Linked DNA regions of Homo sapiens. The protein of the gene in region 5 purifies or fractionates together with the protein of the main gene of each other region. This does not show direct contact. Each region holds a gene or a part of one and is shown on either strand. Other genes may lie near its edges.

Region 1 (3,500 bases), on a different chromosome or scaffold from region 5:
CAGAAAACCAAACACCACATGTTCTCACTCATAAGTGGGAGCCCAACAATGAGAACACATGAACACAGGGAAGGGAACATCATACACCTGGGCCTGTCAGGGGGTGGGGGGCAAGGGGAGGGAGAGCATTAGGACAAATGCATGCAGGGTCTAAAACCTAGATGACAGGTTGATAGGTATAGCAGACCACGATGGCACATGTATACCTATGTAACAAACCTGCACGTTCTGTACTGCATCCCAGAACTCAAATTAAAAAAAAAAAAAAAAAAAAAGTCCTGTCATATTCTTGCATCTCATACCAAAGGGAGTTAATAGTAAGCTCTTTCCTCTCTCTTCTCAACATCAAGCCTCCAGCTCCAAATTAGACAAACCCCCACGTAGGAACAAACACTTGGACTGAGAAACCCATGACCATCTTCCTCAAAATTCCACATGCAACTGGGCCACTTAGCTACTGCCTTATACAGTTAAAAGATTCAGTGTTAAGCCATTTATAAAACTTCAGCCAGGTACTGCAGTGTGCACCAGTAACATTAGTGACTCAGGAGTCTCAGGCTGGAGGATCCCTTGAGTCCAGGAGCTCGAAATCAGTCTGAGCAACACAGCAAGACCCCATCTTTGAAAAACAAAAACAAAAAACTATGCCACTACTGTTTTCCAAAGCATGATCCAAGGCACTGGCCCTGAAAATACACGTTGAATATCCTTTATCCAAAATGCTTGGGACCGAAAGTGTTTTGGATTTTTTTTTTTTTCCACTTTGGAATATCTGCATCACACTCACTGACTCAAAGTCCCTAATCTGGAAATCCCGAATCAGCATTTTTTTGTGTTATGTCGGTGCTCAAAGTTTCAGATTTTGGAGCATTTCGGATTAGGGATGCTCAACCTGTACTCTAAGAAAAAGGATTGAGGAACAGTTCTATATTCACCTCTGCACTGTAAGGCCAGCAAAGGAATTTGGAATGCCCACAGGCACATAAGTCTTGTTTGAACACTGTGATCTACAGTCCTTCTAGAAGGGAGAATTCAGAATTAAATACAGCAGTGTTCTAGGAATTGCTCAGGATTCTCACTGGAGAAATTTTCATTTATGAAAAAAAATGGAGTCATGCAACACAAGTAATTGATATCTTAAATCAAAGTGTCCTTTTAAAATTCTGCTTTAATCACTTAGGGAGGAAGCCCTTTAAATAAAGTAGACCAACCTTCAAAACACAGGGCAACCCATTATTTTCTGCCTCTTCTCTTGCCAGCAGAGCTTTCGTTACCCTTCAAGTAAGTTAAATTCACACCTCTTTATAACTGAGCATCTTTATCCACTGGCACAATTTCAAAGTACTCTGCCCTAAGTATTGCAATTAGTGTTAGGTATTTTATGTATCATTTGATACTCTTCCAAACATTTTATTGGACATTCCACCCAACGACACAGTGTGTGGGATTTTAGTATCATTAGCACCTTCATGGAGAGGGAAAAATTAAGGTGTGTGTAAAACTACCCAGAGTCAAGTCAGTTCAGGAATCTAGAACATGCTACTGGCTCTTACCAGCTCCTTTTGAATCTGTGGCTTAGCACGTAAACACATTTATCACCAGTATCACCACTAGCTAGCTCGGTGGCTCCTTCCGGAACACAGATGACAGTGTCAATTTAATGAAACCCAGGCCCACCACACCTCAGGGCCGCAGGGTTGTTTTTCCTGGGGTCTGGAAAAGTGCCTAGCTGTAAGGGTTTTAAAGAGCATTTGTGCATGGTTTACATACGTGGTTCGCAGATTCAATTGAGGAGGTTTTCTGACTTTTCAAAAGAACTGAGTCTATACCATGAAATGGTGGTCGGAGCCACAGTGCACACCAGCAGGCTTAGGTTACAACTGCAGTGAAATAGTGAATTAAAACACCTGGAATATGCAGACTCCAAAAACTAAACTAAGAACTTTATTGACGTTTTTAAACAGATGCTAGTAACTTTATAACTAATCCTTATCTGTGAAAGGTTAGCATAACCATGGTGATCGCAATTATAAAGCCCATAATCTCCAATCTTCTGGGTATGAAATCCAAAATCAAAAGCTCTAACTTTTTAAAGCTATTAGAGAACACAGCATTTTAATCTTTATCTCCTGAGAAGGTAGCTAAGGCCTGAAACTACCAATTCAAACAAAACGGAGTAAATTACATACTAAGGGGATGAGAAGATTCCCAATTGGTAACTCCTCCACTGCAAATGCAAAAGTGACTTTCTTAAAAAAAAAAAAAAAAAGACACATTGACTGACTACTGGTTATTAAATTAGAATGTCTCATGCGGGGCTTCAGATTACTTGAAAAAGTACCCCTCTCTTGTTAGCCAGGATGGGGGTCACTCCTAGCGCCTTGATTATGGAGTCAATTTCTTAAACAGCTGTCATCCCTTCCAAAGCATTTTAAATACTGAACTACCCAATGAGAACTAGATGAGGATTACAGATATGAAGTAGAAACTAAAATCTTACCATATGCTACCTCCATAGGTTTAAGGAAATCGGTATAACTTGGAAACTACAATCTAAAAAGAATCATTGTGGTTTACTCAATTTTTTAATGGCAAGCCCACAAAACTAATTCCCGGCAACATGAGGTTATTCAGCCTGGAGTCATATAGAGCATAACCTGTGCAATTAAGAATCTTTTGCAGAGTTGGGAAAAGAGCATTTAAAAAAAAAATCACAAAGCAAAAGCGCATGCCAAAGGAAGGCAATGCCAACAAGGGATCTCCCGGAAGCAGCCCATAAAATATTTTCAAACACAATTAACGCATGAGAATTCCTATGTAAAGCACACAAAAAAGTCTTCTCCAAAGCTGTCAAATCCTGAGTCCAGGTGCTTCCTGGCTACCGGGAAGCACAAGGAATATACTGGGGGAAGAGGAAAAACCGGGTAGAAATTGACCTTGTATGTGTTGATACAGAGTTTAGACTTCATCCATGGGGTAATAGGGACCCACGGAAGAGTTTTTAAATGGGAAAAGGGACAGGGATCCTGTTGAGTTCCTAATGATCGGGCCCATCCCCAAACGGAGACAAATGGGGAGACTGTAGCCAGGAAACTAAAGTAAGGAACAGGTGATGAGCAACAAATTTGAGAACATTGGCAGGCAGAAGCCACAGGACTTAATGAGACTGACTAGGCTGACTGGTTGGGCTGAGTGAGGTAGGTGTGCCAAAGGTTTCAGACAAGTTTTTGTTGTTGTTGTTTTAAATAAGGAACCTACTAGAGGAGTTCTCATACTTTAATCAGCAACAGAATTACTGTGAGGCAGATGATTAAAAATGCAAAATCCAGGAACTCACCCCCCTCCACCAACTGTGATTCAGTCCGTGTAGAGTAGGGCCCAAGCATGCATTCCCCACTCCCAGTCATCAGCCCCGAAAGGCTGCATTGTTAAAGCAACAGCGTCTGTGCCTGCGGTGTTATCACAATGGGGGATTAAAGTGTAGTGGGACAGGATAATAA
Region 2 (3,500 bases), on a different chromosome or scaffold from region 5:
CTAGTGCCCAACACAGGGGCTTGGCACACAGCAGGCACTCAGTAATTGCTTGTAGAATGAACCAAGAAATGATGGCATGCTGTATATTCTTGATTGGCCTGGGCCTCAGCTTTCCTCATCTATAAAATGGGCCAATAAGCCACTGAGAGGTTTCACAAAGAGATGTCATGAGATCATGCACTATGTCATGGGGTGAACTGTGTCTCCCCAGTGCCAACCACCAGTACCCCAGGATATGATCCTATTTGGACACAGGGTTGTGTACAGAGGTCATCGAGTTAAAATGAGGTCATTAGGGTGGGCCCTAATCCACATGGCTTGTGTGCTTTTAAAAGGGGAAATCTGTAGCTCCTTGGGAGGCTGAGGCAGAAGGATTGCCCAGGAGTTCAAGGCTGCAGCGAGCTATGATGGTGACACTGCACTCCAGCCTGGGTGACAGAGACTCCATCTCCAAAAAAAGCAAAAAAGAAGGCCGGGCACAGTGGTTCATGCCTGTAATCCCAGCACTTTGGGAGGCTGAGGTGGGCAGATCATGAGGTCAGGAGTTCGAGACCAGCCTGGCCAACATACTGAAACCCTGTCCCCACTAAAAATACAAAAAACTAGCTGGGCGCAGTGGCTCATGCCTGTAATCCCAGCACTTTGGGAGGCCGAGGCAGGTGGCTCACAAGGTCAGGAGATCGAGGCCATCCAGGTTAACACAGTGAAACCCCATCTCCAATAAAAATACAAAAAATTAGCCGGATGTGGTAGCAGGCGCCTGTAGTCCCAGCTACTCGGGAGGCTGAGGCAGGAGAATGGCGTGAACCCAGGAAGCGGAGCTTGCAGTGAGCCGAGATCGGGCCACTGCACTCCAGCCTGGGAGACAGAGCGAGACTCCGTCTCAAAAAAAACAAACAAACAAAAAATAATAAAAATAAAAATACAAAAAATTAGCCAGGCGTGGTGGCAAGCGCCTGTTAAACTCAGCTACTTGGGAAGGTGGGGCAGAATCACTTGAACCTGGGAGGCGGAGGTTGCAGTGAGCCAAGATCGCACCATTGCACTCCAGCCCAGGCGACAGTGCAAGACTCCATCTCAAAAAAATAAAAACCAAAAAAACCAAAAACCTAAATTAACAAATTAGCTGAGCATGGTAGTGGCATGCACCTGTGGTCTCAGCTACTTAGGAGGCTGAGGTGGAAGGATCGCTTGAGTCAAGGAGGTTGAGGCTGCAGTGAGCTGTGATTTTGCCACTGCATTCCAGCCTGGGTAACAGCGAGACTCTGTCTCAAAAAAAGGAAATGACAACACAAATATATGTGAGAACTTAAACTGGGAAAACTCTGGTAGCCACAGAGACGCTTCTCAGGCCCGTTTCTGATGGGAGTTGGTGATAAATGGAGACCCACCACCCCCAACTGTAGCCGGGTGGGACCTGGACACCTAAGTATGCCACTCTTGGGTGTTGTGGGGGGCCTGCCCCAGTGATTGTGCAGTCTCCAGGTGTCACCTCAAAAAGACTCAAAAGTCTCCCCCAGGCCAGGCGCAGTGACACACGCCTGTAATCCCAGCATTCTGGGAGGCCGAGGCAGGTGGATCACCTGAGGACAGGAGTTCGAGGCCAGCCTGGCTAACATGGTGAAACCCCGTCTCTACTAAAAATACAAAATTTGCCAGGTGTGGTGGCAGGTACCTGTAATCCCAACTACTCGGGAGGCTGAGGCAGGGGAATCGCTTGAACCCAGGAGGCGGAGGTTTCAAGTGAGCCCAGAATGCGCCACTGCATTCCAGCCTGGGTGACAAAGTGAGACACCGTCTCAAAAAAAAAAAAAAAGTCTCCCCAAAACACAAAGGGCAGGGTGCTATTCCATCTTGAGCCACCAGGGGGAGCCGCAGATAGACTCGTTCAGAAATCGGTAAGGCTGGGGAAACTGAGCCCCGGGACAGAGGCCTCACCCCTCCCACCCAGTCTCCATCTACGCAGTGGTGGGAATGGCAGTGGCTTTGGCAGGGCTTTCTGCGCCCAGTGCAGGGCGAGGCCCACATTAGCAATGGCTGAGATGGGAGCATCATCCCTAGACAACCTCAATTACAGCTCAGCCCTGCGTGCTCCTCCAGTTTTAGAGGGACGGCTGCTGGTTTCATAGTTCATGGATTTTTTTAAAGTTTTATTTATTTATTTATTGATACAGGGTCTGGCTCTGCTGCCCAGGCTGGAGTGCAGTGAAGCAATCTTGGCTCACTGCAGCTTCGACCTCCTGGGCTCAAGGGATCCTCTCGCCTCAGCCTCCCGAGTAGCTGGGACCACAGGTGTGTGCCATCACGCCTGGCTAATTTTTGTTATTTTTTTTTGGTAAAGACAAGGTTTCACCATGTTGCCCACGATATTCTCAAACTACTGGGTTCCAGGGATCCGCCCACCTTGGCCTCCCAAAGAGCTGGGATAATTATTTTTTATTATTATTATTTTTGAGACAGACTTACTCTATTGCCCAGGCTGTAGTGCAGTGGCACGATTATGGCTCACTGCGGCCTCCAACTCCTGGGCTCAAAGGATTCTCCCACCTCAGCCTCCTGAGTAGCTAGAATACAGGCATGTGCCACCATGTCGGACTAATTAAAAAAAAATTTTTTTTTTTGAGACGGAGTTTCACTCTGTTGCCAGGCTGAAGTGCAGTGGCACGATCTCGGCTCACTGCAACCTCCGCCTCCCAGGTTCAAGTGATTCTCCTGCCTCAGCCTCCCAAGTAGCTGGGACTATAGGCATTCGCTACCACACCCAGCTAATTTTTTTTGTATTTTTAGTAGAGACAGGGTTTCACCATGTTGGTCAGTATGGTCTCCATCTTTTGACCTTGTGATCCGCCCGTCTCGTCCTCCCGAAGTGTTAGGATTACAGGCATGAGCCACCGCACCCGGCCAAAATTTTTTTTAATATAGAGATGGGGTCTCACTATGTTGCCCAGGCTGATCTTGAACTCCTAGGCTCAAGCAATCCTCTTACTTTGGCCTCCCAAAGTGCTGGAATTACAGGTTTGAGTCACCATGCCTGGCCTATACATGCAGTTCTTTAGTGAAAACTTGCTGTCCTCTCAGTTTTCATGTCCTCTATAGCTCCTGACTGTCCTCAGGGGGAAGGTCCCTTCCTCAGCCTGGTCTCTGAGGCCATCCACCCTGGCCCTGGATACCAGCCCCAGGGGATCACTGACCTTGCCTGTTCCCCAGGTTCACGTCCCTTCCAGCCTCCCGGCCTTTGCCCACACTACCACCTCCTGCTGCAATCCCCTTTATGGTGAACTCCTACTCAACCTGCCCCTTAATGCCACCTCCTCCAGGAAGCCCACCCGACAACCCCAAGCATGCTGTGTACAGCTACCTGCAAACCAGCACTCTGTGAGAGCAGACACAACCCTCCACCTCGTTCACACGTGCCGTTGCACCCAGCACCCCCCACAGGGACTTGCATCTGCCTGGCACTCAGTCAGTGCTCATGGGACGGATTTGAGACATCAGTGAAA
Region 3 (3,500 bases), on a different chromosome or scaffold from region 5:
ACTTTCTTTAGCACTTCACAAATTACAAAGTGCAACCTCCGCCCCCGAGGTTCAAATGATTCTCAACCAAAGTTGATAAGTAATTATCAACTTTGATAATCTCTGACATTTCACAATCACTTTGTGAGATGATTATTACTATACCTATTTTACATGAAGAACCTGAGGCTCAGGTTACTGAGACTTGCCCAAGGTTATATTATTATACAAGTCTTCTGGCCCCAATCCCATTAAACCTCACTGCATTTCACTGTTTTCAAGGCCACATTATAAGTTCCAGTTTTTAAGACAGGTAATGCACAGGGTATTAGCATACATTTTTAAGAAAAACAAATTCTAAGTTGTGAGTGGTTTATTTATTGAATCTTTAAGAAACCGCTTAATCCAACAGAAAATAAATGTGTTTCCCAGCTGAACAATGCATACTCCCCTCAAAAAAAGACACATACGTGTGTAACTATTTTAACAGTCTGCAATCTATTCTAATTATAATATAGCTAAGCCCAAGTTGCTCCTGATCACTTTCTTCCCAGATCCAGCAGATAAGGTGTGTTCAGTATAAGAGCAGTGAAGTCTTCTAAATAGTTTCTAGAGCAATAAGGCAAACAATTAGAACTCAGAATAAAATACCATCTGTGTGCTAACTGTGCCAGATCTAACAGCACACAGTTTTTCTTTTTTTCTTTTTGAGACAGGGTCTCATTCTGTGGCCTGTGCTGGAGTACAGTGGCACAATCTCAGCTCACAGCAACCTCAACCTCCAGGGCTCAAGCGATCCTCCCACCACCAAGTAGCTGGGACTACTGGTATGCGCCACCACACCCAACCAATTTTTTTTTTTTTTTTTTTTTTGTAGAAACAGGGTTGAGGGCAGGCACAGTGTGGCTCACACCTGTAATCCCAGCACTTTGGGAGGCCAAGGCGGACAGATAACTTGAGGTCAGGAGTTCAAGACGAGCCTGGCCAACATAGCAAAACCCTGTCTCTACTAAAAATACAAAAAAAAAAAAAAAAAAATAGCGTGGTGGCACATGCCTGTAATCCCAGCTGAGGGAGGCTGAGGCACAAGAATCATTTGATCCCCAGGGGTGGAGGCTGCAGTGGGCCAAGATTGAGCCACTGCACCTGGGCAGTTTCACCATGTTGCCCAGGCTGGTCTCAAACTCCTGAGCCCAAGCAATCTGCCTACCTCAGTCTCCCAAAGTGCTGGGATTACAGATGTGCACCGACAGTTTTTCAACAGAATCTACCCTAGGAAGTTTGAGGATGCTGCAACATTCTTGCGCTCTAAAATGTACTACTGCATGAGGCAATAGAACATGTAGGAGTCAAGAGACCTAGGTGCTTCTCCCTACACTCCCACTAACTTAAGTCACTCCCCTCTCTCTTTGGAACTTTCTTATCTATAAACCAAAGATGAAATGGGATGGACTCTTAAGTTCATTCCAACTCTAACATTCTACTATTCTAATTATTGCCTAAGTCCTCAATATAAAAGAGAATTTACAATAAACATATTTTCAAGATACATAAAATCATTTTCTCTTGACCAAACTTACTTTGGTCAAGTGGCTAATTAGATACATGTCAAGCACTGAGGATATCACAAGAATAAGATACACAGCCCATCCTCAATTCTAGGGGAGGACAAAGATCCATAATTAATTTCCATACTATATGATTAAAGCTATGAGATGAGCACAGGTTTTACGGATAAGATACCTAAGATACCTTAGCAGTGCGGATAAGATACCTAAATAAGGAGACGGAAATATGGGTGGATTTGAAAAAAAGAGTTCTTAGAGATTCTCATTTAAGGAAGATCATTTTAGAAGTCAGGTGGAAGACGAGTTTGAAGAGGGTAAGATTAGAGGAAGTCCAGGACACTGCAGAGACCACAGAAAACAGTCCAGATAACTGATGATGAGAGTCTAGAATACAGAAGTTATAAAGGATAAGGAGAAAAGCAGAGCAACTGGTTTATGAATAGTTTGTTCTTGACTTAAATATTGTCCATGAAATCTACTTTATATTACTTAAATCTTTTTACATAAATAACAAAAAACAAATTTTAAACCAGTCCCTACCTAAATAACCACAATTCCAAAACAAGCTTTACTCTAGGCTTCCCTTTTTTTTTTTTTTTTGAGAGGGAGTCTCGCTCTGTCGCCCAGGCTGGAGTGCAGTGGCACGATCTCGGCTCACTGCAACCTCTGCCTCCCAGGTTCAAGTGATTCTCCTGCCTCCCAAGTAGCTGGGATTACAGGCGCCCACCACCAGGCCCGGCTAATTTTTGCATTTTTAGTAGAGACGGGGTTTCACCATGTTGGCCAGGCTGGTCTTGAACTCCTGACCTCAGGTGATCTGCCCACCTCAGCCTCCCAAAGTGCTGGGATTACAGGCGTGAGCCACGGCGCCTGGCCTAGGCTTTTCCACTAATGAATAAAACAATTTACTCAAGGAAATATCTGATATTAAATGTTAATATCAAATTTTCCTCTTTACTCACATTCATAGTTCTCTGAAAAGTGAGAACTCACAGGACAGAACCAAAATTAAGGAAAAAAAAATGTTTTAAGCAATGAATTCAAATTTTATATCGAAGGGCATAGCCAGAATACCAAAGTATATCAGGTGAATGAAGGTCCAGGGATAAGAGACAAATGGAAAGAAACACATGAAAGAAGGAACCCAAGATAAAAACCATATTTACTTACAGGATCAACAAAATCCATATTGAGTCCATAACAAAGCTTCTGGATTCGAGATGTAATTTTGTCAAACATGACTCGTTCTTGGCGGCCATCTAAAGAATCAAATCATGTTAGCAATTATTAAATTCATGTTAGCAATTATTAAGACTACAATGTCAAAGAATCAAATGTAATTAACATGTAAATTGACCAACATGAAGTGCTATTTCACAGAAAAGATTGAGGCCCCCTCAAAAGATTCATGAAGAGATTGTCTTCTCTGATGTCACCTTCAAAGAGTATGAATTCTATACAGACAGACGTTTACGGATAATTTCCTAAATTTTTCCCCCATCCCACATGGCAGCCAAAATTACCCTTTAAAAGTTAAACTCAGAATCATATCATTACCTCCTTCAAAACTCCTAATAGTGGCTTATGATCTCCAGAATAAAAGTCAAAATTGTTATAACAATCCACAGGCCAGGCCTAGTGGCTCACACCTGTAATCCCAGCACTTTGGGAGGCCAAGGGAGCGGGGGGGGGTGTGGATCACTGGAGGTCAGGAGTTCGAGATCAGCCTGATCAATATGGTGAAACCCCGTCTCTACTAAAAATACAAAAAATTAGCTGGGCATGGTGGCAGGGGCCTATAATCCCAGCTATTCGGGAGGCTAAGGCAGGAGAATTGTTTGAACCCAGGAGGCGGAGGTTGCAGTGAGCTGAGATCACGCCATTGCATTCCAGCCTGGACAACAAGAATGAAACTCCAACTAAAAAAAAAAAAAAATCCACAGAATCCTATAC
Region 4 (3,500 bases), on a different chromosome or scaffold from region 5:
TAGCTGGGCGTGGTTGTGCATGCCTGTAGTCCCAGCTACTTGGGAGGCTGAGGCAGGAGACTCGCTTGAACCCGGGAGGCGGAGGTTGCAGTGAGCTGAGATTGCACTGCTGCACTCCAGCCTGGGTGATAGTGAGACTCTGTCTCAAAAAAAAAAGAAAAGAAAAAAGAAATTTCTCGCTTTTTCCAGAAATACTTCCTCAATTGGGTAGGCATAATTGATATCTCAGAGAAGTTTAAATAAAATGGTAGCAGCAAAAGTACTTTGTAGAATACAGCCTGATGTGCAAACCAAAAGTGGTGATATTGTTAAGATTCAGTGAGTATATTTTTGCTTTGGAGTTTAGCTATTGAGTCTGTAAAATGTTTTGTTTCCAACCTAGGGATGATCTTTTATTCTCACCCTTTTTCCTGGTTGCAGTTATTTTTTTAGCTTTTAAAAAGTGACTTTCTTGAGGCTGAGTTAGAGACTAGCCTGGTCAACATAGTGAGACCCCTGTCTCTACCAGAAAAAAAAAAGGTGACTTCCTCCTTTCAGTTTTTTGTGAAGCATTGTGAATCAAATTTTTTTTTACTTAAGCAAATGCAATGTGTCACTGGAAGCCGAACCTCTGGTTTGAAATTTAATGCTGAGATTTGAAATATGAGAGTTCTCGAGCGGTATCTTACCCAATTTTAGTGATTATTACTTTGAAATGTTGACATCAGTTTCTTTCTTTATTTGTGCTAACCTGGCTTTCATGACCTATACTTCAGTTTCTCTATGACAACCAGACAAATCTTTTTAAAGTTCTCTAAGAAGAAGCATTTTTCATCTTGTTAGTCTTCACTGACTTCATATTTACAAAGAATAAATTCTGAACTCTTTTTTCCATCTTACAGAATTCTCTACAGTTTAGACCCTTATCTTAATTTTTATTAGATGATACAGGTTGACTTTCTAATTTAGAAAGTCGTGAACTAGCATTTTACTTAACCTTTTGCACCTCCCTATGCTCCTTATTAAATTAGAACAGGGTTTCTCAACGTTGGCACAATTGACATTTTGGGCCATATAATTCTTTTTTTTTTTTTTTTTTTTTTTTTTGAGACAGAGTCTCTATCTGTCACCCAGGCTGGAGTGCAGTGGCACAATCTCGGCTCACTGCAAGCTCAGCCTCCCGGGTTCACGCCATTCACCTGCTTCAGCCTCCCGAGTAGCTGGGACTACAGGCGCCCGCCACCAGGCCCAGCTAATTTTTTGTATTTTTAGTATAGACGGGGTTTCACTGTGGTCTTGATCTCCTGATCTCGTGATCTGCTCGCCTCGGCCTCCCAAGGTGCTGGGATTACAGGTGTGAGCCACCGCGCCTGGCCATATAATTCTTTATTATGGAGTTGTCCTGTGCACTGTGGGATGTTAAGCAGCATCTGTCTCTACCCAGTAGATGCCAATAAGACTTCCTCAGTTGTGACAACCAAAAATGTCTTCAGACATTGCCATATGTCTCCTGGAGGACAAAATTGCCCCTGGTTGAGAATTGCTGCGTTAGAAAGTATCGTAGCTATGATTGTACAATGTCCCCAACTAAATTCTGTGAGGGCAGGCCCCATAGCCATACTTAGCACAGTCGATGGTACATGATAAGCACTCAGTATCCTACAATGAATGAATCATTTGTTTCTGTTGAAGCTTCAAGAAATTACTGTTCCTTCAAGGAATTTCTGGGTGGGCAGGTTGGAGTACAATGGTGCAATCATGGCTGATTGCAACCTCCAACTTTTGGGCTCAAGTAATCTTCTCGCTTCAGCCTCCTGAGTAGCTGGGACTACAGTTCTTTTTCTTTCTTTTGTTTTTTGTTTTTTTGAGATGGAGTTTTGCTCGGTCGCCCAGGCTGGAGTGCAGTGGCGTGATCTTGGCTCACTGCAACCTCCCCCTCCCGGGTTCAAGCAGTTCTCCTGCCTCAGCCTCCTGAGTAGCTGGGACTAGAGGCACACACCACCACACTCAGCTAATTTTTGTATTTTTAGTAGGGACAGGGTTTTGCCATGTTGGCCAGGCTGGTCTCGAACTCCTCAAGGGAACCACCCACCTCAGCCTCTCAAAGTGCTGGGATTACAGGCATGAGCCACCATGCGCTCGGCCAAATGTTTGATTTTTTTCAGAGACAGGGTCTTGCTATGTTGCCTGGGCTGGTCTTAAACCCCTGGCCTCAGGTGATTCTCTGGCCTCAGTCTCCTGAGTCACTGGGATTACAGGCATGAGCCACCACACCTGGCAGATGTGATCTTAAGAGAAGTGCCATTGGTTTGAGTACTAGAAGCAAGCTTCTTGTTGATGGTGTAAGTCAGCAGATTTCCCTCTCTATTGAAAATTGTGTGAATTCCTGTTTTGTTTGTGTTCCTTGTATTTAGAGTGCTTGGTTTTAGTGGACAGGGACTATCATTTATTTTAAAGTTGCATATAGGCTGGGCGTGGTGATTCACGCCTGTAATCCCAGCATTTTGGGAGGCCAAGGCGGGTGGATCACCTGAGGTCAGGAGTTCGAGACCAGCCTGGCCAACATGGTAAAACCCCGTCCCTACTAAAATTACAAAAATTTGCTGGGTGTGGTGGCATGTACCGTAATCCCAACTACTAGGGAGGCTGAGGCAGGAGAATCACTTGAACCCGGGGAGGTGGAGGTTGCAGTGAGCTAAGATCGTGCCACTGCATGATCTGCGCCAGCTTGGGTGACAGAGCAAGACTCCGTCTCAAAAAAACAAAACAAAACAAAAAAAAACAAACAAACACTAAAGTTGCATATAGTTTATGGAGTTATTCACATTTATTTTAGTTGATAAAATTATACAGTCATGTGTTGCTTAATGACAGGTACATTCTGAGAAATTTGTCATTAGGTGATTTCATCATTGTGGGAACATCATAGAGTGTACTTGCACAAATTTAGATGATACTGCACATGGTGTAACTTATTACTCCTGGGCTACAAACCTGTATAGTATGTTACTGTATCTAATACTGTAGGCAGTTTGTAACACAGTGTAAGTATTTGTTTATTTAAACTTTTTTTTTTTTTTTTTGAGACGGAGTCTCACTCTGTCGCCCAGGCTGGAGTGCAGTGGCACGATCTTGGCTCACTGCAACCCCCGCCTCCTGGGTTCAAGCAATTCTTCTGCCTCAGCCTCCTGAGTAGCTGGTACTACAGGTGCGCACCACCACGCCCAGCTAATTTTTGTATTTTTAGTAGAGATGGGGTTTAACTATATTGGCCAGGCTGGTCTCAAACTCCTGACCTTGTGTTCTGCTAGCCTTGGCCTCCCAAAGTGCTGGGATTACAGGCATGAGCCATCGCGCCCGGCCACATTTTTAAAGTACAGTAAAAATAGGGTATTATAATCTTATGGGATTTTGTGTTGATTAATCCCCATATAATCCCATATAATCTTATGGGACCACTGTTGATTTTGTGGTCCATCCATTGACCAAAATGTCATTATGTAATGCATGACTGTAGTTTC
Region 5 (3,500 bases):
TATTTACTCGCATGATCATGTGACTGATTGGGAGCTGTGGCTGGCTGCCGCTGCAGAGGATTGTTGAGAGAGTATCTTATTACATATTGCGAGCCTGGGAAAAGATCAAAATCCAGAATTTGAAGTATGGTTTGTATTGAATGCATGTCGCTTTCACACCATTGTAAAGTCGAAAAACTATCTCAAACCATCCTAAATTGGGGACCATCTGTATGTCGCTTAAAATGTTTCTTAGCTGTCTGTAAGTTCCCTTGCAGATGCAGCAGTCTTTTAAGCACAGCATATGGTTTTTGCAATTATAAAAATAGCATATGCTCCTTATAATACATTTTTAAAATACAGCAAAAGTTAAAGAAGATTAACCAAGTATCCCATATTTTGGTGCATAGCTGAACTTTCTGTAAATATATACCTTTATAAATATAGTTTGTTTAAATTGAATCATACTATGCATACTATTTTATGCCTTGATTTTTTTTCCATTGGTAATATATCTTCTCATGTCAGTATATAGTAAGCTATGTGATTTAAAAGTTGCATAGTATTTCATTGAATAAACATGCTATAATTTATTAAACTAAAAATATTGGTGGACATTTAGGTTATTTGCAACTTTTTGCTGTTGTAAAGAATACTTCAGGCCAGGTGTGGTGGCTCACGCCTGTAATCTCAGCACCTTGGGAGGCCAAAGCAGGTGGATCACTTAAGGCCAGGAGTTCGAAACCAGCCTGGCCAATGTGGTGAAACCCTGTCTCTACTAAAAATACAAAAATTAGCCGGGTGTGGTGACATGTGCCTGTAGCCCCAGCTACTCAGGAGGCTGAAGCACAAGAATTGTTTGAACCCAGGAGGCGAAGTTTGCAGTGAGCCCAGATCGCGCCACTGCACTCCAGCCTGGCCGAAAGAGTGAGACTCTATCTCAGAACAAAAACAAAAACAAAAACGAAACAAAACAAAAAACCACTTCAGTGAATATATTTCAGAGTATTTTAAAAAATAATTTCTAAAAATGGTTTTACTGAATCGAAAGCCTTTCCTTTTTTTTTTTTTTTGAAGACTTTTGATACTTATTACTAAATTTGTGTCCCCCAGGAGTCTTTTAAAATATTACCTGAATTTTTCTTTTGAAAATGGGTACAAAAGTGACCCATGTTTAAAAATTAAAGTGTCTGTGTGACTAACAAGCATATAAAAAATGCTTAACATCACTAATCATTAGAGAAATGAAAATCAAAACCACAATGAGATACCATCTCATGTCAGTCAGAATAGCTGTTACTAAAAAGTCAAAAAATAGCAGATGTTGGCAAGGTTTCAGAGAAATGGGACGCTTAAACACTGCTGGTGGGAATGTAAGTTAGTTCAGCCATTATGGAAGGCAGTGTGGCGATTTCTCAAAGAACTTAACACAGAAATACCATTCAACCCAACAGTCCCATTATTGGATATATGCCCAAAGGAATATAAATCATTCTACCATAAAGACACGTGCACACATATTCATCGCAGCACTATATGCAACAGCAAAGTCATGGAGTCAACCTCAATGCCCATCCGTGGTAGACTGGATAAAGAAAATCTGGTACATATTACACCATGGAATACGGTGTAGCCATAAAAAGGAATGAGATAATGTCCTTTGTAGCAACATGAATGGAACTGGAGGCCATAATCCTAAGTGAACTAACATGGGAATAGAAAACCAAATGTTCTCACTTCTAAGTGGGAGCTAAGCATTGATTACACACGGACACAAAGAAGGGAACAACAGACACTGGGGCTTACTTGATGATGGAGGGTGGGAGGAGAGAGAGGATCGAAAAAGTATCTATCAGGTACTATTCTTTTTACCTTGGTGATGAAACAACCTGTACACCAAGCCCCTGTGACACACAATTTACCTATATAACAACCATGCACATGTACCCCGAACCTAAAATAAAACTTAAAAAAAATTAAAGTGTCTGGTACGTAACTCCCCAGTAAATTTATTTTAAATCAGCTCTTTAGCTGATTTATGATTGTGTGTTAATTGTATCTAGCATTTGCATGGTTGTTAAGATGGATTGGAATCTGTTTGCTATGAAGTACAGTCAAAGGGAAATATTTATTTTTTCCCTTTCTTTTCTTTGACAAAGGAAAAACTGTCAGCCATAAAAGTCTTTTTTTTTTAAATAACTTATAGGTCAAAGAATTAGAAGAGCAACTAGAAAATGAAACACTCCACAAAGAAATACACAACCTCAAACAGCAACTGGAGCTTCTAGAGGAAGATAAAAAGGAATTGGAATTGAAATATCAGAATTCTGAAGAGAAAGCCAGAAATTTAAAGCACTCTGGTAAAAGCATTGAGTAGGCTACTATGTCTTACTATTAATCTTTGAATTACTCATGCCTAGTACAAAACCTGGCATATAGTTAGTCTAGAACATTTACTGAATGCTGTGGAAAAATACCAAGATTTGTTTTGAAATTCCTTAATTTCTAACCATTGCAATTCAGTAGAATAGCTGCTGTATTAAATAATTCAAAAATATTTAGACTAATTTTTTGGACTTAGAGCCCTTGTGAACATCATATACAGAATTTAGACACAGAGATACCGTTAGCCTAGGAAGACCAACTTTTCAGCATTTTTCAGAGCTTCAGAGATGAATGTTCATTATGTACTTTATTTTGTTCACTTAGAGTGCATTTTTAGAAAGAATTAAACTTTTTAAAAATACTGTCTTCATCTTTGGTGTTCATACTACCTTCATCTTTGGTGTCTAATAATACACATGAAATAATACTTTCTATATTGTACCTAACAATGAACTGGGCAACAATATATCTATTAAATGGAAAATCTTTAGAAACACCAGGGGATACTTAAATCAAAAGATTTATTCATTCAGTTCTAGAAGGCTTAACGGGAATGTGCGAGTTAGATTACTATACGGGCATATGTGTAAGTCTCTGTTGGAAGGTCGGTAATTTAAGAAGTCAGGTACATTCCCTTTATAATAGCTTCAATATTCACTTCAGATATTTTTGGTTAATTTTATACTAGAATTTTGAAACCTATGCAGAAGAACCATGTAGGCCTTTTTTCCTTCTAAAAGCATTCAGTGCTTTCTAATCCACAATGAAAATTGATTATAATTTATTTTTTAATTGATCCAAAATTAAGAAGTATTTCATTCTTTTTAGTGAATATCAGAGTAGCCTGTAGCCAAAGCCATCTTTATTATGAATAGAGGAGGCAGACACTGGAAATATATAAGGTTCAAATCTGAATGCCTTCTATTAATACTTATTATCTGCTGTGTGTGTACCCAGCCCTATCCTAGGAAACAATAAGAAATACAGAAGAAAAGAAACCATGCTTTTTGTCTTCAGAGAACTCAGATTCCCCTTGGAGGGATAGGTGCATGCACATAAAAAGACTAGAGGATTCTCAGTTTTGGAGAGCATAGCCCACACTGCCTATTTAAGTGTTGAGGGTAAATACAAATGGA
Region 6 (3,500 bases), on a different chromosome or scaffold from region 5:
AGGGGGAGAGCGAGCGAACAAAACTGAGTTTCTGCTCTGTTCTTCCAGCCCCCGCTTTCCCCCACCCCACGCCCACTCTGTGAAGGAAGGTCTTGGGCTGGATGCCACCTGGCACTGGGGAAGGCCGGCAGGCACGGGGCCTGGTACCTGCTTGGCCTGCTTCCAGGACTCCTCCCACTGCTTGATGGTGCTGTTGGCTTCATCCAGCTCTTGCCGAAGTCGGGCCAGCTCGGCAGCCCCTGGCCCTGATAGGAAAGCGGGGGAAGTGCCCGGGGAGAAGCTTCCAGAGGCAAAATGCTCCCAGATGCTGCTGTTCATCCCGTTCAGACCTGCCCCAAGGAGGGGAAGAACATCAGCTCCGGAGGGCTTTGGGCCCAGGCCCTGGCCAGCCCTGCCTCAGAGGTTCCAGGGACTGGCTGTCCACTGGATGGGTGTGCAAGGCTCCAGCTAGTGTCAGGCCAGAGAATTTTGCAGGGACAGGAAGGCTGTGAAGGTGCAGGTGGCGTGGGCGGAGTCAGACCTAACCTTGAGTGACACCTGCTAGTTGGTGCCACTCAACTTCCGAGGCTCAGCACCCTCATGTGGGAAATGGGACTCCCACACTGGCCTCACCGGGTAACTCAGGGGACTCAGGAAGTACTGCATGTGAGAGCAGTCCCAGGCCCCCGATAGTGGCAATTTATGATTGTGGCTTCACTTTTAGGCTAGGGCCTTTTTGCAGCCTGATGTGAGGCCCAGGAAGAGATAAAGGGGAAAAGACAGGCCAGAGCCTCATCGGATGGCAGAGCTGGGGCAGGAAGAGCTCAGGGAGCCTTGGGGCCATCCCCCTTGTTTTACAGACAAGGACCCTGGATAAAATGTTTTACCAAGAATCACACAAATTGTAAGTGGTAGGGCCAGGACACAGACAGGGAGTGTGGTTCCAAAGGCCTATGCTTTCCAGTCAACTATGCTGCGTGCACAGCCTCCCACCCACCGCCAACCCAGCTGCCCTCTGCTCACTCGCTCAACAGATGTTTACTAACATCAGGTCCCCCTGCTCTGGCCCCCAGGGCAGCCCCGGGCTTCCGAGAAGGACCCATATCCACCTCTGGCCTCACTCTGCCCATATGTACTTTCTGGTGACTTCTTCCTTGCTCCCTTTCCCACTAATCCAACCAGGATGTTCCAGAACCAGATTTAAGACGCTTTGCTCTCTGAGACACACAAGTGCACCCACAGAGGAGGGACATGGTCCTGTGCGGAGACCCTGTGGCATGCACTGTCTGAGCCATCTGCCCCATCCCAGAGGAAGACCTCAGGGTCACCCCACCCACATGAGACCAGCCCTGCAGCAAGCTCTCCTGTCCCACCCATCTCTCCTCCTCCCTTGGAGAAGCTCTCCTGACTCTGCTGTCCAGGTAGGCCCCTCTATGATTCTCAGGAGGATCCCAATGGCTGGGCACCTCTGCTTCCCACACTGGCCACAGCTGCTGGACAGCAGGGACTGTTGCACTTACACCTGTATCAATACACCTGTGCTCAATAGTCACATGGTGCAGGAAGGAGTGTGTGGCCAGTAAGTGGAGCTAAGTCTAGACGCCACCAGAAGCTGGGCATGGTGGTGCACGCCTGTGGTCCCAGCTACTCAGGAGGCTGATGTGGAAGGATTACCTGAGCTCAGGAGTTCCAGGCTGCAGTGAGCTAGGATCATGCCACTGCACTGCACTCCAGCCTGGGTGACAGACTGAGACCCTACTCGAAAAAAAAAAAACAGATCCTATCCGAATATGGGGCAAGTCCGAAAAATGCAACACCAAGCACCTAAAGCTGACAGAATCAACGTAACAGAGAACAGCCTCTTCAAACTGGAAGGCGCTGAGAAATCCATGTGCTGTTCTGGGATCAGGAATGAGATAAGGGAAGCCACCAAACCCAATCAGAACTCTGAAGGGCTCATTCCCTGGGCCCGAGCAAAATGCTGGCACTCTCGGGGAGGGAGCTCCTGGTGTCTGCAGCTGCTGGGGGAGAGTGAGAGCGGTGGTGCCATGTGCTTCCCATCCCGCCCTCAGGAACATCCCCTGACACACACAAGAGGAGATGCACAGCCGGCCCGCAGTGGCACAGGCCTCTGTGCCATTCTTCTAGCCACTAAACCTTGAAGTGCCCTCAGAAACCCCCATTCCATACCATTCTAATTCTGTGGGCAAACAGCCTTCTGGGCCAGCCCTGGGCCTCCCTGGAGCCTCTGCCCGGCAGGAAGGGCACCCGAAGCCAGGGGTTAACCTGTCTGGCTTCTCCCTTGGTCCCCTGTGAACCTGGCTGGTGCGAGCCAGCCTCTCGGAGCCTGGGGTGACTGGGCAGAACAGAACCATGCTGTGAAAGAGACCAGGCCCAGCCCTGGCAACTGAGACCCCTGCTCTCACCTGCACTGGCCTCGTGCCTAGCACTTCAGCCCCATTACTCCATTCAATGCTCACAACGTTAGGAGGTGGATGCTGCCGTTATACCCATTTCACAGCAGAGGAAACTAAGGCAGAGAGGCTCAATCACTTGTCCAGGGTCACACAGACAGGAATCTGACTCTGCCTCCTCGCCCAAGGCCTCTGCCCTAACCCCCAGCCTAGCTGATATGCCGTAGATGGGGTGGCCAGAGGCACCTCCTAAAGGCGCAGGTTCCTGCCCCAGTTCTCCTGAGTGAACCACTCCCTCTCTTACCCAAAGATCCATGTGATGCTGAGGTTCCCAAAAATGTGTTTTCCGACTGACTCAGGTGGCCCTGGGGCTGCTGCAGGAAATGCGAGGAGAGGCTGACGGGAGGGGACGGGGATGCTGAGTGGAAGGAGGCAGAGCTGCCCAAGGAGCCGGGGATGTTCACGGGTGCAGAGCTCTGCAGCAAGCTGCCGCCTGCAAGAGAGGCCCGGGGAGGACGGGCTGGGTGAGGGCAGCGGAAGCCAGGCGGGCCACACAGAGCAAGGGGCCTGAGCCAGGCAGGAACCCGAGGAGTCCTCCAGGCTGCCCTGCCCACCCACACCCAGTACCGATGGTGATGCTTCCTGGGTGGGGCACTGTGCTGTTATCGAAAGTCTTCTCCAGGGCGGCCACGCCAAACTCATTCAGGTCCAGGTCATCCAAAGCAGACTCTAGGGACAGAGAAGAGTGGGATGTGACCTCCCGAGGGACTATCTGACCCTGACCACCTCGTCTACTGCCCACGCTGCATCTTCACGCCCATGCTACGCTGGGTCCGTATTCTCCCAAGCCCCTGTGCCCTTCCTTCAGCTGCTTCCTATGCCAATCCTGACTCCTGACTTCTGACACCGTCTGCCAGTCATGTCCAACCCAAATGCCTCTCCTTTCTGAATCTTCTTTGATACTTCCAGGAGAAATCACATCCCCATCCAGGGTCCCTGCCTCGGACAAGGGTCTTGTCCCCTGATGTTACAACTCAAGGGTCTCAGCCCCGGGATCAGTGGGGGTGGGCGGGTCTCTGGGCACTCAGTGGCTGGTGTATAGCAGGT
Region 7 (3,500 bases), on a different chromosome or scaffold from region 5:
CAGCCAGGCATGGTGGCTCATGCCTGGAATCCTGGCACTTTGGGAGCCTGAGGCTGGTGGATCACAAGGTCAGGAGTTCGAGACCAGCCTGGCCAACATGGTGAAACCCCGTCTCTACTAAAAATACAAAAATTAGCCAGGCTTGGTGGCATGCAGCTGTAGTCCCAGCTACTGGGGAGGATGAGGCAGAAGACTCACTCGAACCTGGGAGGTGGAGGTTGCAGTGAGCCGAGATCACGCCACTGCACTCCAGCCTGGGTGACAGAGTAAGACTCCATCTCAAAAAAACAAACAACAACAACAACAAAAACAAAAAAAAAACAGAAAGAAAGAAAAGGAGGGCTGGGTGTGGTGGCTCTCACCTGTGATTCCAGTGTTTTGGGGGACCATGGTGGGAGAATTACTTGAGCCCAGGAATTTGAGACCAACCTGGGTCACATAGTGAGACCCCGTCTCTACAAAGAATTTAAAAATTAGCCAGTCATGGTGGTGAGCACCTGTAGTCCCAGCTAATGGGGACGCTGAGGAGGGAAGATGGCTTGAACCCTGGAATTCAAGGCTGCAGAGAGCTCTGATTGGACCACTACACTCTAGCCTGGGCAACAGGGCAGGACCCCATCTCAAAAAAAAGGAGGAAGAAGCATAAAAAGAAGTAAGCAGGCCAGGCACGGTGGCTCACGCCTGTAATCCCAGTACTCTGGGAGGCCAAGGCGGGTGGATCGCTTGAGGTCAGGAGTTCGAGACCAGCCTGGCCAACATGGCGAAACGCTGTCTTTACTAAAAATACAAAAATTAGCCAGGTGTGGTGGTGGGTGCCTGTAATCTCAGCTACTCAGGAGGCTAAGGCATGAGAATTGCTTAAACCCAGGAGGTGGAGGCTGTAGTGAGGCCAGATGGCGCCACCGCACTCCAGCCTGGGGCGATGGAGTGAGACTCCATCTCAAAAAGAAAAAAAAAAAAAAGTAGGCAGAGTAGAGGCAGGCACCTTTCCCCAGCAGAAGAAATATGTGTGAAATGTGGAGGATGTTGGGGAGAGTCCTGTAGGATGGTATTGATCAGAAGGCCTAAACTGAGAACTTGAGATAAAAAGTATGGCGAAGAAAGGGAGATAACTGGGAATCTGTTACTCAAGGCCCCCTCTGTATTTCCAACCCCATTCTCCACCACCTTCCCCAGGGTGACAGGCACTCCCTGATCATAATCTGTGGACTCCTGAGTCCCAGTCCCTGTCCATGAATGCACCCCTTAGCATGGAATGTTCCCCTCCCCATGATGACCCATCAGAAATTATACTTTTCTTTTCTTTTTTTTTTTTTTCAGACAGAATCTTGCTCTGTCACCCAGGCTGGAGTGCAGTGGTACGATCTCGGCTCACTGTGACTTGCAACTTCTGCCTCCCAGGCTGAAGCAATTCCCCTGACTCAGCCTCCCAAGTAGCTGGGCCTACAGGCGCCCACCACCATGCCCAGCTAATTTTTGTTATTTTTAGCAGAGATGGGGTTTCGCTACGATGGCCAGCCAGGCTGCTCTCGAACTCCTGACCTCAGGTGATCCGCCTGCCTCGGCCTCCCAATAATAACTAACACTTATTAGCTGCTTACCATGGGCCAGACATAGTTAATGGCATCACAGCCTGGTATCTGTAATCCCATTTTATAGGGGAGGAAAGGGTCACAGAAAGGTGAAGTTATTATTTTGCCTAGGGTCACATGGCTATTAAGTGATCAAGTCATGACTGAAGCCTGACTCTGGAGTGCAGTGGGGCAATCTTGGCTCAATGCAACCTCCGCCCTCCAGGCTCAAGTGATCCTCTCACCTCAGCCTCCCAAGTAGCTAGGATCACAAGCATGCACCACCATGCCCAGCTAGTTTTTGTATTTTTGGTAGAGACGGGATCTCTCCATGTTGCCCAGGCTGGTCTCGAACTTCTGAGCTCAAGCGATCCTCCCGCCTCGGCTTCCTAAAGTGCTGGAATTACAGGCATGAGCCACCGTGCTGGACCTACAGCTGTTTTAAATGTCGCCTCCTTGGTGACACCGTTCACAACCTACCAAGGTCCCTCTATTGTATTCCCAAAGCACTCTGTGACTTTGTCAATCCCTTCCACTAGACTCGACTCTGAGCTCTTCAAGAGCAGATGCCAGGCTGGGCACAGTGGCTCACACCTGTAATCCCAGCCCTTTGGGAGGCCGAGGTGGGTGGATCACTTGAGGTCAGGAGTTTGAGACGAGCCTGGCCAACATGGTGAAACTCCGTCTCTACTAAAAATACAAAAATTAGCTGGGCGTGGTGTGTGCGCCTGTATTCCCAGTTACTCAGGAGGCTGAGGCAGGAGAATTGCTTGAGCCTAGGAGGTGGAGGTTGCAGTGAGCTGAGATCGTGCCTCTGCACTCCAGCCTGGGCGACAGAGCAAGGCTCCATCTCAAAACAAAACAAAACAAAGCAGCTGAGGTATTAGTGGTGTTACATCTATCCCCCTGGCCCGGGGCAGTGTCTGGCATACACACACCAACTGGATTCATTCCTTACACATCCTAGTATCAGATATATGCCAGGGCTGGCACATATGGGAGACAGAGGCAGGTGGATCACTCGAGGCCAGGAGTTTGAGATCAGCCTGGGCAACATGGTGAAACACCATCTCTACTAAAAAAAAAAAAAAAAAAAAAATTACACACACACACTACAGATATATGCCAGGCACAATGCTAGTACTAGGGACACAACTCTGAACAAGATGACATGGTTCCTGTCCTTACAACTTACAATCTAGCAAGGAAGGCATGCAATTAATGGAGTAACTATAATAAATGTAAGAAATCATAATGCCAGCAAAAGTATAGACAGGGCTACACAGCAGAGAAATACCTAACCTAGATGAGAAATCAGAGAAGGACTCTCAGAAGTGATGTTTAAGCAGAAGCTCAAAGGATGAACAGGAGGCCAGGCTCGGCGGCCTCCCAAAGTAATCCCAGCACTTTGGGAGGCCAAGGTGGGAGGATCACTTGAGGCCAGGAGTTCAAGACCAGCCTGGCCAACATGATGAAACCTTGTCTCTACCAAAAACTAGAAAAATTAGCCAGGCACGGTGGCCCACGCCTGTAATCCCAGCACTTTGGGAGGCTAAGGTGGGAGGATCACTTGAGGCCAGGAGTTTAAGACCAGCCTAGGCAACATAGACTGTGCTCTATAAAAAAAAAAAAAAAAATACAGTTTTGGAGTAGTGGCACATGCCTGCAAGTCCTAGCTACTCAGGAAGCTGAGGTGATAGGATTATTTAAGCCCAGGAGTTTGGGGCCTGCAGTGAGCTATGATCACGCCACTACACTTCCAGCCTAAGCAACAGAGCAAGATCTCATCTCTAGGCCAGGTGCAGTGGGTCATGCCTGTAATCCCAGCACTTTGGGAGGGCGAGGCGGGCAGATCACTTGAGATCAGGAGTTCGAGACCAGCCTGGCCAATGTGGTGAAACCTCATCTCTACCAAAAATTATAAAAATT

What was found.
Region 1: the proteins of SHTN1 (region 5) and SMS fractionate together in Homo sapiens (co-fractionation; one large-scale study listed by BioGRID). This does not show direct contact.
Region 2: the proteins of SHTN1 (region 5) and COLGALT1 fractionate together in Homo sapiens (co-fractionation; one large-scale study listed by BioGRID). This does not show direct contact.
Region 3: the proteins of SHTN1 (region 5) and RRM1 fractionate together in Homo sapiens (co-fractionation; one large-scale study listed by BioGRID). This does not show direct contact.
Region 4: the proteins of SHTN1 (region 5) and CAP1 fractionate together in Homo sapiens (co-fractionation; one large-scale study listed by BioGRID). This does not show direct contact.
Region 6: the proteins of SHTN1 (region 5) and UNK fractionate together in Homo sapiens (co-fractionation; one large-scale study listed by BioGRID). This does not show direct contact.
Region 7: the proteins of SHTN1 (region 5) and TPM4 fractionate together in Homo sapiens (co-fractionation; one large-scale study listed by BioGRID). This does not show direct contact.

The regions. Positions count from the first base shown.
Region 1 is NC_000023.11:21,947,209-21,950,708, reverse strand, and holds part of SMS (spermine synthase), read right to left. Parts: intron 1-3,500. UniProt on the Homo sapiens protein: Catalyzes the production of spermine from spermidine and decarboxylated S-adenosylmethionine (dcSAM).
Region 2 is NC_000019.10:17,572,649-17,576,148, reverse strand, and holds part of COLGALT1 (procollagen galactosyltransferase 1 precursor), read right to left. Parts: intron 1-3,500. UniProt on the Homo sapiens protein: Beta-galactosyltransferase that transfers beta-galactose to hydroxylysine residues of type I collagen. By acting on collagen glycosylation, facilitates the formation of collagen triple helix. Also involved in the biosynthesis of collagen type IV.
Region 3 is NC_000011.10:4,101,299-4,104,798, reverse strand, and holds part of RRM1 (ribonucleoside-diphosphate reductase large subunit), read right to left. Parts: intron 2,807-3,500; coding exon 2,718-2,806; intron 1-2,717. UniProt on the Homo sapiens protein: Provides the precursors necessary for DNA synthesis. Catalyzes the biosynthesis of deoxyribonucleotides from the corresponding ribonucleotides.
Region 4 is NC_000001.11:40,043,729-40,047,228, forward strand, and holds part of CAP1 (adenylyl cyclase-associated protein 1), read left to right. Parts: intron 1-3,500. UniProt on the Homo sapiens protein: Directly regulates filament dynamics and has been implicated in a number of complex developmental and morphological processes, including mRNA localization and the establishment of cell polarity.
Region 5 is NC_000010.11:116,928,688-116,932,187, reverse strand, and holds part of SHTN1 (shootin-1), read left to right. Parts: intron 1-2,185; coding exon 2,186-2,339; intron 2,340-3,500. UniProt on the Homo sapiens protein: Involved in the generation of internal asymmetric signals required for neuronal polarization and neurite outgrowth.
Region 6 is NC_000017.11:75,819,306-75,822,805, reverse strand, and holds part of UNK (RING finger protein unkempt homolog), read right to left. Parts: intron 3,123-3,500; coding exon 3,021-3,122; intron 2,887-3,020; coding exon 2,698-2,886; intron 330-2,697; coding exon 148-329; intron 1-147. UniProt on the Homo sapiens protein: Sequence-specific RNA-binding protein which plays an important role in the establishment and maintenance of the early morphology of cortical neurons during embryonic development.
Region 7 is NC_000019.10:16,089,995-16,093,494, reverse strand, and holds part of TPM4 (tropomyosin alpha-4 chain), read right to left. Parts: intron 1-3,500. UniProt on the Homo sapiens protein: Binds to actin filaments in muscle and non-muscle cells. Plays a central role, in association with the troponin complex, in the calcium dependent regulation of vertebrate striated muscle contraction.